2 linked regions of the Homo sapiens genome follow. The protein of the gene in region 2 purifies or fractionates together with the protein of the main gene of each other region. This does not show direct contact. Each region holds a gene or a part of one and is shown on either strand. Other genes may lie near its edges.

Region 1 (3,655 bases), about 16 Mb from region 2:
CATTTGCTTCCCTAGAAAAAAGCTTATCTATTAGCAACTCTTAGAAAAATAGGATTTATGCACCCATAAAAAGGAATGAGATCATGTCCTTTGCAGGGATGTGGATGGAGTTGGAAGCCATTATCCCCAGCAAACTAATGCAGGAAGAGAAAATTAAACACTGGCTAGGCGAGGTGGCTCATGCCTGTAATCCCAGCACTTTGGGAGACCGAGACAGGCAGATCACTTGAGGTCAGGAGTTCAATACCAGCCTGGCCAACATGGCGAAACCCCGTCTCTACTGAAAATACAAAAATTAGCTGGATGTGGTGGTGTGTGCCTGTAGTCCCAGCTACTCAGGAGGCTGAGGCACAAGAATCGCTTGAACCCGGGAGATGGAGGTTGCAGTGAGCCGAGCTCTGCCACTGCACTCCAGCCTGGGTGACAGAGAAAGACTGCATCTCAAAAAAGAAGGAAAGAAAGAAATAGAAAAGAAAAGAAAAAGAAAACCAAACACCACATGTTCTCACACAGGGGAAAAACAACACACACTGGGGCCTGTGGGAGGGGAAGGGTTGCGGGAAGGAGAGCATTAGAAAGAACAGCTAATGGATGCTGGGCTTAATACCTAGGTGATGGGATGATCTGTAAAGCAAACCACCATGGGACGTTTACCTACGTAACAAACCTGCACATCCTGCATGTGTACCCCTGAACTTAAAAGTTGAAGGAAAAAAAGAAAAAAGAAAAAAAGGATTTATACAAGAAATAAAGGAAACCAAGAAACCAAGAGCCCTACTTCATTCACCCCCCAATCTAAACTCCTTCTATGTAATTCCTTTTCTTATTGTTGAACACTTGTACTAATGGGTTTGGGCAGATCAAATTTAACTTATTTCTTCCAAACCTGAGAGAGAAGCCTTCTTTGTAACAAACTAGGACTAGGAGATAGAGAAAAAAAGAATGTATATTTGAATCACTCAAAGCTCAGCTTCTGATGAAGAGCAAGACAGCTGTTAAAGCAGCAATGGACAGTCTGCCATGTGTGAAAGTGTCCCCCAAAATTCATTTGCTGAAACTTAGTTGCCAATGTGATAGTTTAAGAGGTGAGACCTTTAGGAGGTGATGGTGACTAAGTCATAAGGGCAAACCCTCATGAACGGGATTAGAGGACTGGCGACATTATAAAAGTTGTTTTTTTTGGCAGGGCGCGGTGGCTCACGCCTGTAATCCCAGCACTTTGGGAGGCTGAGGCGGGCGGATCACTTGAGGTCAAGAGTTCAAGACCAGCTTGGCCAACATGGTTAGACCCGTCTCTACTAAAAATACAAAAATTAGCTGGGCGTGGTGGCAGGCACCTATAATCCAAGCTACCTGGGAGGCTGAGGCAGGAGAATCGCTTAAACCCAGGAGGCAGAAGCTGCAGTGAGCCGAGATCGCGCCACTGCACTCCAGCCTGGGTGACAGAGCGAGAAGCCCCCCCGCCCCCGCCAAAAAAAAAGTTGTTTTTTTCGTTTGTTTGTTTGCTTTTTTTAAACTGGCTCCAACTCTCAAGCTTGACCTTACAGAATTGTGCAGGGATCTGCTTTGCCCTTCTACCATGAGGACACAGCAACAGAGAGCCAGTCCTTACGAGACAAGAAAATCTGCTGGTGCCTTAATCTTAGACTTCCCAGCCTCTACAACTGTGAGAAATAAATCTCTATTATTGATAAATTATTCAGTCTAAGGTATTTTGTTATAGCAGTCTGAATAAACTAAGGGAACACCTAATAGAAGGAAGCCATTTATCGCTGCAAATTTACTGCTGGAAACCAATGCCTGGTGTGGATCCTCTGAAATACATGTAAGATTGGGTAGGAAAAAGGGCACCATTTTATCTGCCTTTCTTTGCAGAAAACCAACTTTCTTGGCTGAGTTACTCCTCATTCTCTGTCCCCTGGGAAAATGCAACAAAAACAGCATAAAATGTTTGGTACTGAAGAAAAAAATTTACCTGTTCAGTCTTTCTCTCCCTTGATTCTGCCACTATCCTGGGTACCTTGACCACCAGTGTGGAAAACCAAACCACAAGCCGGGAACTGTAGTACTACTTCTTGACTTCAACTCCAGTGACCTTTGCCTCCCCTGCATTTCAGTCCCCTACACCCACAGCCTGGGCATCGTTACCACATAGAGCTGTTCCACGTTAGAACTCTTGACCTCTAGGAAGCTATTTGCTGACCACAAGCTCACATCTTCCCATCCCTTTCATGCCTCTCTGCACTCACACTCCACCTGCTTTTGTATTTCAGAGATCTCCAGGCCCTTGACAACACATTTTCTTTTCTTTTCCTCTTTTTTTTTTTTTTTTTTTTTTGAGACAGAGTCTCGCTCTGTCGCCTAGGCTAGAGTGCAGTGGCACAGTCTCAGCTCACTGCACACTCTGCCTCCCCAGGTTCAAGCGATTCTCCTGCCTCAGCCTCCTAAGTAGCTGGGACTACAGGTACGTGCCACCATGCCCAGCTAAGGTTATGTATTTTTCGTAGAGACGGGGTTTCTCCTTGTTAGCCAGGATGGTCTCAATCTCCTGACCTCACGCTCGGCCCACCTCGGCCTCCCAAAGTGCTGGGATTACAGGCGCGAGCCACCGCGCCTGGCCTTTGACAACACATTTTCTCTATGTTGACAACCTAATCCACTCCTTCACCAAAATTCTTAATTCTCTTGTAACTCAATCCTTCTACCGCACACACCAAGTAACCTTCCTCTCTCTAGGGAAATGTCTGTGGCTTATTACTGAATAAACTCAGAAAATCTTGCAAACTGATGTTACTCAATCCGTAGCTGCCAATTCCAATGGGGCAGGCCTTCATCAGTCCTTCTGTTGGGGTTCTCAGTCAGCACCCCTCCGATACAAACTGGCAGTACTTTCCTCAAGCCCACATCATTCATTTGCTAGCTTGCTCCCTCCCTCCCTCCCAATTCAGTCTCTAACTGGCTCTCTCAAGGACTCCAGGATCTGGTCCCATCTACTTCTCTAGCCCCTCAAACTCCCAATTTAACCTTCTCATAATCCGGAACTGCTTACGGTTCCCTATGAACACCAGTGGTCAAAAGCATGGGCTCTAGGCCCAGGTTCAAGTTCTAGTTCCAGTGTTTGAGACCTTCGGCAAGTCAAGTAACATCTTTGAAACTAGGTGTTCTCTTCTACTTTCTTGGCACACAGAGGGGTACATAATATGCCCTCAATAAAGTCAGATATTGCTATGACGCTACATCTTTGAAACTAGGTGTTCTCTTCTACTTTCTTGGCACACAGAGGGGTACATAATATGCCCTCAATAAAGTCAGATATTGCTGTGACGCTACATCTTTGAAACTAGGTGTTCTCTTCTACTTTCTTGGCACACAGAGGGGTACATAATATGCCCTCAATAAAGTCAGATATTGCTATGATGCTACTACTTGTGCTCCTCACACTGCCGGCTCTGCCTGGAATGTCCTTTCTCCCTCCTTGCAAACTTTACCTGCCCAATAACTGACATTTCTCTTTTAAGATAATTCAGATGTCATTTTAAGGAAGGTTTCAGTGAAAACCTCACTCTGACTGGGTTAAATGCCTCCTTTCTGTCTCCCAATACAGACCGTAAGCCAACCCAGAGCAAGAAACCTTTTTTTTTTTTTTTTGAGACAG
Region 2 (3,189 bases):
CAGGTAGGTTCAAAAACGAGGATGAATCTCAAGAATATAATGCCGAAGAAAAATAGCAAGTTGCAGAAGAATATGTACACTATAGATCCATTTACACATGTAAAACTATGACATGTTGAGGCCACAAACATATAGTAAAACTTAAAAAAAAAGGGATAAATAAAAATTGGACAGTGGTCATCTCTTGGGAGTTGGGAAAGGGATGTAGTTGGAGAAGGCATGGAGGTTAGTCCAGAGATGGGGGAGGTTGCATTCTCTTCTTTAAACTGTAGGGGAAGCACATGGCTGGAGTATTACCTATGTCTTACACAGAAAAATTGTATGTGTCTGCTCAAGAATTAATAAAAGTACTAAAAAATGTGGGTAGCCCAGAGCACAGATTGAGAGCCACACAGGTAGGAAATGGAAAATAGTTTGAGTTTGAGTAATTAGGACTTAGGCCTAGGGCTGGCATTCATGGGCACTGTGTGACTTTTTTAAAGCTTTTGTCTATCATACCTTCTGCCCCACCCTTGAAAACATTTACTGGGAAATTCTGTAACCTTGTGAGTGGCCACCATTCTACAATGTTATTATTATTTTTTTAATCTTGTCTCCAAATTGCTCCAGTTTTTTTTTTTTTTTTTTTTTTTTTTTGAGATAGAGTCTCAGAGTCTCGTTCTGTCACCCAGGCTGGAGTGCAGTGGTGCGATCTCGGCTCACTGCAACCTCTGCCTCCCGGGTTCAAGCAATTCTCCTGCCTCAGCCTCCTGGGTAGCTGGGATTACAGGCGCACGCCACCATACCCAGCCAATTTTTGTATTTTTACTAGAGACAGGGTTTCACCGTGTTGGCCAGGCTAGTCTCGAACTCCTGACATCAGGTGATCCACCTGAGAATTGCTTGAACCTGGGAGGCGGAGGTTGCAGTGAGCCGAGATTGTGCCACTGCACTCCAGCCTGGGGGACAGAGTGAGACTCTGCTTCAAAAAAAAAAAAAAAAAAGGTAATGGTGCCACTGAGACATACAGTTCTACTGATCTAACTACACCTGACCTGCTCTCTTCTGAAGAAATCCTTGCCTAGACATTACATGAATTTATTGCTAATTTTTGTCTTTTTCCCTTTATTTCAAATGCAACATTAAGGAATCATTTTAACAATTTTTAGGAAACAAAAGGAGTTACTCTTACAATGAAGGAACCAGTGAAAATCACTTGGTCTAATGGTAGGGTGACTTGATTTATACCTGTTGCCCTAGTATAATTATTCATAATGTTCCCTTTTACTTTGAAAGGTGACCTAACTTGGGCAATGAATAATAAGGTTACCCCAAATATTCTGCATATATTTTTAGAGGCCTTTATGTTATCAGAGAATGAGAGTGTTTAACCAAAAAGTGAGATTTTGGCCTAGCACACATTTCCCTAAGAATAGATACTCCATACCATTCTCCTTCCATCTCACTCCAAAATTGTTTCTCAGCCCATTTCCTGGTGTGAGAATGCTCACACAGTCTCTTTTCCTGGGTTCAGTCTTCTTCGAGTTAGATCCATTGAAGTCCATCCGAAGTAGGGGGGCCATGATCTCCACATGTCAAAGGCCAAAATACAGCAGGTGACAAAATAAAATCAGGAAAAATAGGCCACTGCCTGGATGCTGTATCTGAGTATATAAATACGGATTTAATTCTTGAAACTCACCTTTAGGAAGCTGATTAGGAGACCAGGTCACTGACTCTCTAGAGACCTTACAAATGTGGGAGACAGATACACACATAATGAAAAGGGACCAGAGAGATGGGTAAAAGCTCTTACCATTTCCATAAAGGACAAGGAGGTTGGAAAAGGAAGGAGCTCTCACCACACAGTGGTTTTAACTCAGAAGAAATTATTTGAGGTGGCGCAGAAGAGATTTTTAGGTAAATGAAACTCTTTTGTATGCTACTGTAATGGCATATATTATAAAATGGTAGATGTTATGCACTTGACAAAACCCACAGAACTTCATACAGTGAGTGAACCCTGATGTAAACTATATATTTTAGTTAATAATAAGCTATCAATATTAGTTCATCATTTGTAACAAATGTACCACACCAGTGTAAGTTGTTAATAACTTAGGAGAAACTGAGGTGGGGGAAAGGAAGTATGTGGGAACTCTGTATCTTCTGCTCAATTTTCTGTAAACCAAAAATTGCTCTGAAAAAAGGAAGTCTATTAATGTAAAAAAAAAATACGCATTTTAAGAGTTCAAAAAAATAATGTTAATGATAAAATATAAAAGTCATTACAAATACTCCTTCATGCATGTGGAAGAAAAGAAAAATTATTAACTGGCAGATAAATCTTACTAGTAATTGTACAACTTTTGGAAACATAGAGAAATGACTTTCAATGGTATCATCAGGGCAAGAAATTATCAAGACAGATACTGAAGTTATTTTCCCAAGACATGGCAACAATTTTAAAAGTTTTAGAAATATAACAGTTCCCCTTTGTTAAAATAACTCTTCCAATAACATTATATTACAAACAACAGAGCAAGTTAGTGAAAGTTTTGAATCACTCGTCTTCATTGCACAGAACTGGACTGAAATTCTCATGAAAGCTCTCAATTTAACTCCTCATTTAACCAGATTGCTGTAGGGGAGAAGAAACATCTGCTTCATCCTTCTTCCAATCCTTTTGTTAGCATGAAGACTTGCATTTTTATCATTAGAAGAAGATCATGATGTTTAAATTAACTGGCAAAAATAGCTTTAAAAAAAAAACTAATAGTGAAATAAAAAGCAAAATAGGGTATTATGGGTGGGCCCTAATTCAATATTACTGGTGTACTTATAGGAAGAGGAGATTAGGATACAGACAACATAGAGGAACACATCTAAGGATGTAGTGGGAGGTGGCCATCTGCAAGCCAAGGAGAGGCCTCAGAAGAAACCAAACCTGCCGACATCTTGATCTTGGACTTCTATCCTCCAGAAGTCAAAGAAAATTAATTTTTGTTGTTTAAGTCACTCAGCCTGTGGTACCTTGTTTCGGCAGCCCTAGCGGACTAACATAGGAGGGAACAGTGTAAGAATTTAGTGACTCAGGCAGGGCGTGGTGGCTCACGCCTGTAATCCCAGAACTTTGGGAGGCCAAGGTGGTCAGAAGTTCGAGACCAGCCTGGCCAACATGGTGAAACCCTATCTCTACTAAAAATACAA

The links. Proteins that work in one complex are often made in the same cells at the same time.
Region 1: the proteins of HMGN4 (region 2) and PAK1IP1 purify together in Homo sapiens (affinity purification with mass spectrometry; one large-scale study listed by BioGRID and IntAct). This does not show direct contact.

The regions. Positions count from the first base shown.
Region 1 is NC_000006.12:10,697,884-10,701,538, reverse strand, and holds part of PAK1IP1 (p21-activated protein kinase-interacting protein 1), read right to left. Parts: intron 1-3,655. UniProt on the Homo sapiens protein: Negatively regulates the PAK1 kinase. PAK1 is a member of the PAK kinase family, which has been shown to play a positive role in the regulation of signaling pathways involving MAPK8 and RELA.
Region 2 is NC_000006.12:26,541,216-26,544,404, reverse strand, and holds part of HMGN4 (high mobility group nucleosome-binding domain-containing protein 4), read right to left. Parts: intron 1-3,189.